2 separate regions of the Homo sapiens genome follow, and region 1 is linked to region 2. Evidence: fine-mapped expression QTL. A gene starts in region 2. The other region holds a variant in brackets. All regions are shown on one strand. Distances are between the middles of the regions.

Region 1 (2,928 bases), 190 kb after region 2:
CATCTCTGCATCTTGCTCACAACCTGAAATTCCCAGCAGGGGACACCATGCAGGTGGGGAATCAGTCATCTGATGGCAGAGTTAATGAGCTCAACACTTAGGGTTTCAAGTTAGGCTTCACGGGCAGTCTCTGCGATGTCGGACTGCACAATGTTGGGGACATGCCTGAATTTGGCTTCCACAGATTGTAACAAGAGTTTTCCTTTTGACCCTGATACGCAAAACTGTGCCATCAGTACTGGGTGGCAAATCTATGCTAGGAAGGGACATGATCTCAGCCATCAAAATTAGAAATGGAACAGCCCTCCCCAAATCTAGGCAGAATAACTTAGTCCTAAATGTCTTAGAAGGGCTTTTGATACTTGTCTTGGGACTCTAATTTACAAGCTAACAAGTGTCACCATGAAAATGGCTTTTTGTGATGTTTCGCATTAATTTGTATTTCTTTTTATATACTGCTTTGATTGATTCTAAATACATTTTCTCTTTCCATGATGTTTACATCCTTCACATTCCTAGGGACTGTTATCATATCCCCTTTAATCATCCGTTGGCCAAGCTATACATATTAAATTCCTTTCATCTCTCCTATGTCCTTCCTTCCAGCAGCGTTGGCTCCTCTTTAAATTCCTTCCAATCTGTCAACATCTTTCTGGAGCTGATGTACACCCTCCCTTAATAAACATTCTAGGTGCTCCTTGTTTCCTAAGAGTTCTCCAAAGACTCCTACTGTGAAAAAATATTGGACTGGGAGTCAAAAGTGGTAGTTCTAGTCCTGGATCTGCTCCAAGCCTCAGTTTTCCCTTTTATAACATGGGAGTAACACCTTTTTTGGCTTGATCAAAAGAGAGTATAAAATATAAAATCACTTTGCAGATTATAAAGTAAATGTGCACAAAGAATGTGTGCATATAGTATTTGCACAATATTAAAAACATAAACAAAAAAATTGGAAACAAGTATGTCAAATAACTTGTTAAATCTGATAGTGGCATTCGCAGTAACAGTTACATTATTCTATACATTGAGTGCTTTACATTTCAACTTCAAAGAATTATTTATCCATTTACTACAAGTATTTACTTAACTTCTACTCTACACAAGAAGACAGACTAGACAATGTGGGAGAACATGAAGCAAAGACCTCGAGAAGTTATGATGGTCATCCCCAGTTCTTAGACACTCAGTACTTGGTTTGGATCACAGAATATCAGGAAGCTGTTCCTGCTGTCTCTTGGATTATGCTTTATAACATTGTGGTGAT[C/T]TCTTATTATTTCTTTAGAGTAGATTCTGAGAAACAGAATTACTAGGTCAAAGGGTGTGACCATATTTAGGCCTCAAATTTCCAAATAGTTTCCCAGAAAGAGTGTGCCAATTTCTACCCTCACTGCCAATGTTTAACAGTGTATTACCAGGCCATTGCCAACACTGGATATTATCTTTATTCCAAATCTAATGAATTGCTTTTAGAATTCATAAATAAAGGCATGAAAAAATCTAAAATAAATTCATTTCTACCAAGATTAAGTATCCTCACTTGCTATCTATTTTGATGTCGCCTTGTGGTAAGTATTCAACAGAATCTTTAGTACTTCAAAAGACATTAACTGAGTGCCTATTATTTTCCAGGCAATAAAACTGGGGGTTAAACCACAAAGATGAAATAGTCCCAGATCCTGCCTTTAAAGGGCTCATAATCTAGTGTAAAAGATAAACACTAATAATTACAGAACTAATTATAGAGCACTGTGGGCAGAGGTCCTTCCTTGAGAACATGAAAAGTATAAAAGCAACACAGAAGACGGAGGCAGGAACAGCCTAGGGGAGTCAGGAAGGGCTTCAGGGAGGTGGCAATATCCGAGCTGGGTTTTGAAGGATGAGCAAGTCTTAACCAGAGAGGGGAGAACGAAAGAGATGAATCCAGGCAGAGGAACCAGTTGTTGGTCTTTGCAGCCACTACCATCCTCTCTCAGAAAATGTTTTATTATATGAAGGTTTAGCAATTCAGGGCTAAGCCTCACTGGGCAGTTTTATTGTTTTAATCTCTATCATTTACAGTTGCATTTCTGTCCCTGGAGAAAGCAATCAGAAAATATTCCTGGTACTTCATCCAACAAAGGGCACAAGATCACTGCTGCTTCCTTCACAGAGAATGCTGTTTTATAAAAACAAGTATTAAACAATAATTTTGCTAAATACAAACTTTAAAACTTAGATTGTCAAGCTTGAAGAGGACCTTTAATCCTTAAAGATCCTTAAATACTTTCTCAGGTAAAGTGGGAATATCTATAAGTTAAGATGAATAACTTTCCTTTCCACTCCTACAAAATTAAATCAATTGGAGCTACAAAAAAAGTCACAAAACCCAGTTTAAAAAATAGCACAAGAAATGATTAATGACATCAGATCAATTTTCAAATAATAAAAATATTCCTAAAAGCTGCCCTTTTATATGTGTTTTCACATATCTTTGGTGGCATATATAAATATCCATGTCTGGGATTTAGCAGCGTTCTGAAAAATATACTCTTGTGGAATAGGGATTACAACGGTGGACTTAAAACAAAACGAAACGGCCATTGCAACTGTACTAGGTTACAAGCCTCTAACCTGTCCTGGAATTTTCAAAGCCCAAACATCACTGCTGGTCTCTAATCCTCAGTGTGTTTAAATTGCAGGGCATTTAAACAGAATTGGCAGAAAAACACATACAAAGGGGCCTCTTTATAAACTGTAAAAAGATAGCATTCCAATTACTCTGTCAATTATTTTCTTTTAAACTAAGTCCTTCAAATTGTGCCGTATGGCTCAAATGTCTTCCTAAACCCTTCTGTTATCAAAAGGCAAATAGATCTTCCCTTGAATCTAAATGACAGCCTGGCTTTCTCCTGGCTCCTCAGGAATCACTACCACCTGCCGGAATGCAGC
Region 2 (2,928 bases):
TTTTTCCATTTCCCTTCTAAACTTCATTCACATATGCATACATACATGATTTTAACATAGTTGTAATTATAGTTTACCAACAAATTTAAGTTCTACTTTTTCTACTTTGCATTACTTTAAAAATGTTTGCTTATTTCTGCATATCATCAGAATCAGTTGAAAGGCTACTTTAAAAAAATTAAGTTGATATACTGTCTTTTATCCATTCCTGTATGTAGAAACATTTTGGTTATATCTAGTTTCAAGTTATTGCAAGTAATATAGTTAGACTTATCTCTGCATAGGAGGCTTTTTTCTTTTAAAAGTTATGCATTTAGAATAAATTCCCAGCAATGGTTTTACTAGCTTAAAGTATATGAACATTTTTACAAGTCTTAATATATAACATATTTACCCTTTGCCCTTCAAAAAAATTATATCAACCTTCATTACCACAGCTATCTGAAACAAAACTGAATACCTAAAAAGGTTGCAAAGTGTTGAATTTTATTTTTTTAAGCATTTCACTTTATTTTTGTTACATTATCTGGTACATTAGGGTTTTAATTTTGATTTCTTCATTATGATTAATAATTTTTAAGTTATAAGAATGCCAGGAACCATTCCAAGGAGTTTATCTATATAAAATTATGTTTTCTCTAAGAATAATTTAAATAAACTCTCAATGCATGAAAATATAAAAACCAACCCTTGATATATTAAATATAAGATAGATTTTTATATTTCCAGAAAATAAATCATCTCATTTCACAGAACTAGAAAGGCACAGATAAATAGGCTAAGAAAGAAAATAAGACTTCTAGATTTTTCAGCATATTTGATTGTTGTAAATAAGAAGAAATTAATTCAAAGACATAATAGCTTCTTTTATTATTGAGAAATTTTTTTCAGGATGAGAAAGTTCATCTAACCTGTATCTTTTTTTTTTTTTTTTAAGGAAATGTTAAGGAAATGATACAGGCTTCCTATATCTTTTTCCTTAAAAACGACTCTATGGACTTAAGTTCACCGAAGGAAGTGGAATGATGACATGCAAAATGACAACACAACTAATTCTATTTTTTAAGCAGTTAAGAAAACCAGTTTGTAAATAACCTACCTGATCTTGACAAGCACAACAAACTGATGAATAAGTAGAATCTCAACATATGGAAACTGGAGAGATCGTGTGTCACATTCACAAGAATGATTTACTTCGCAGAGGCTTAAGAGTTTCCACTGTGGGATTTTGCTCACAGTGAGCTCAGACGACTCAGAGGTGTGGTGACAACAGGAAGTTCCCTAGGGACTGACTGCAGGCAGTCCCAACCCTTTCAGGATCTTTGACTCCTCCTCTTTTCAATAAAAGGTCACTCATTGTCTACTTTATACAATTTTGTGCATATCTTAATATTATAATCTGCATCTGCAGAATGACGAGTTCAGAATAGTTTCATTCTTCGTGGGCGGTTTATTAGTTGTTTGGCTTGGTGTGTTGAAACCAAGTGTGACTTGAGATCTTTTCCCCTTGGTTCTTGTGAATGAAATAACAAATCCAGTTTGTATCTGTTGGCCTGTATATACAAAACCAGTTTTTATGTTAATTCATACACTCATTCATCATAGGGCAGTCTTTAGATTTTAAGAACATTTCATTAGGTCCAATTATACATCTACATTTGCCAAAATATATGTATGCTTCAGATTAAAAGAAACTTTTTTTGGTATTATATATCTTTATTTGTATTTCTTCCTACCGAGAATTTCTACAGCTCTAATAGGTCTTTTTTAAAAAAGAAAAACAGGCCGGCACGGTGGCTCACGCCTGTAATCCCAACACTTTGGGAGGCTGAGGCGGGTGGACTGCTTGAGGTCAGGAGTTTGAGACCAGCCTGGCCAACATGGCGAAACCGTCTCTACTAAAATTACAAAAATTAGCCGGGTGTGGTGACACGCACCTGTAATCCCAGCTACCTCAGGAGGCTGAGGCACAAGAATTGCTTGAACCCGGGAGGCAGAGGTTGCAATGAGTCCAGGTCACATCACTGCACTTCAGCCTGGGCGACAGAGTGACTGTCTCAAACAATAAATACATAAATAAAAAGGAAAAATAAATGAAAAACTTTCAAATAGAACCCCATGCCAGAATCTATGTATCTCAGGGATAGAGGTAACTAAACTTGTGCTTCATAGCTCCAAGGTAATTTAATTCCCTTTCTGGCGAGAGTGCTTGCAACACTAACTCAGGCTTCTAGTGGTCTGATGAGCTTAAAAATCAATTAATAAGCCGGGCGCGGTGGCTCAAACCTGTAATCCCAGCACTTTGGGAGGCCGAGGCGGGCGGATCACGAGGTCAGGAGATCGAGACCATCCTGGCTAACACGGTGAAACCCCCTCTCTACTAAAAATACAATTAGCCGGGCGTGGTGGCGGGCGCCTGCCAGCTACTCGGGAGGCTGAAGCGGGAGAATGGCGTGAACCTGGGAGGCGGAGCTTGCAGTGAGCCAAGATCGCTCCACTGCACTCCAGCCTGTGCAACCGAGCGAGACTCCGTCTCAAAAAAAATAAATAAATAAAAAATAATAAAAAACATTAATATGCTGGGCGCGGTGGCTCATGCCTGTAATCTCAGCACTTTGGGAGGCTGAAGGGGGTGGATCGCTTGAGCCCAGGAGTTCCAGTCCAGCTTGGGCAACATGGCAAAAACCCATCTCTGAAAAAAAATACAGACATTCTTTAGTGCACCTGTGGTCCCAGCTACTAAGGAGGCTGAAGTGGGAGGATCACCTGAGCCCAGGAAGCAGGAAGTTGCCATGAGCCAAAATCATACCACTGCACTCCAGCCTGGGTGACAGAGTGAGACCCCGTCTCTAAATAAATAAATAAATAAATAATAAAGACGCAACTTAAGAAAACATTTCATCCAAAGCATCAGGCAAAAGCAATTAG

The links. PIP is the estimated chance that this variant, and not a neighbour inherited with it, causes the effect.
Region 1: its variant is fine-mapped to the expression of LIPH in whole blood (TOPMed, PIP above 0.99).

The regions. Positions count from the first base shown.
Region 1 is chr3:185,736,629-185,739,556 of GRCh38, forward strand. All of the region lies in intron 2 of IGF2BP2 (insulin like growth factor 2 mRNA binding protein 2), which reads right to left. Among named protein-coding and RNA genes, the nearest start is that of IGF2BP2-AS1, 25 kb to the left of the region's middle. The variant C/T (reference allele first, on the strand shown) is at 1,265.
Region 2 is chr3:185,551,324-185,554,251 of GRCh38, forward strand. LIPH (lipase H) reads right to left here and starts at 1,265. Exons shown (of 10, transcript NM_139248.3): 1 at 1,100-1,265. The coding sequence starts at 1,148. RefSeq lists an enhancer at 1,275-1,354.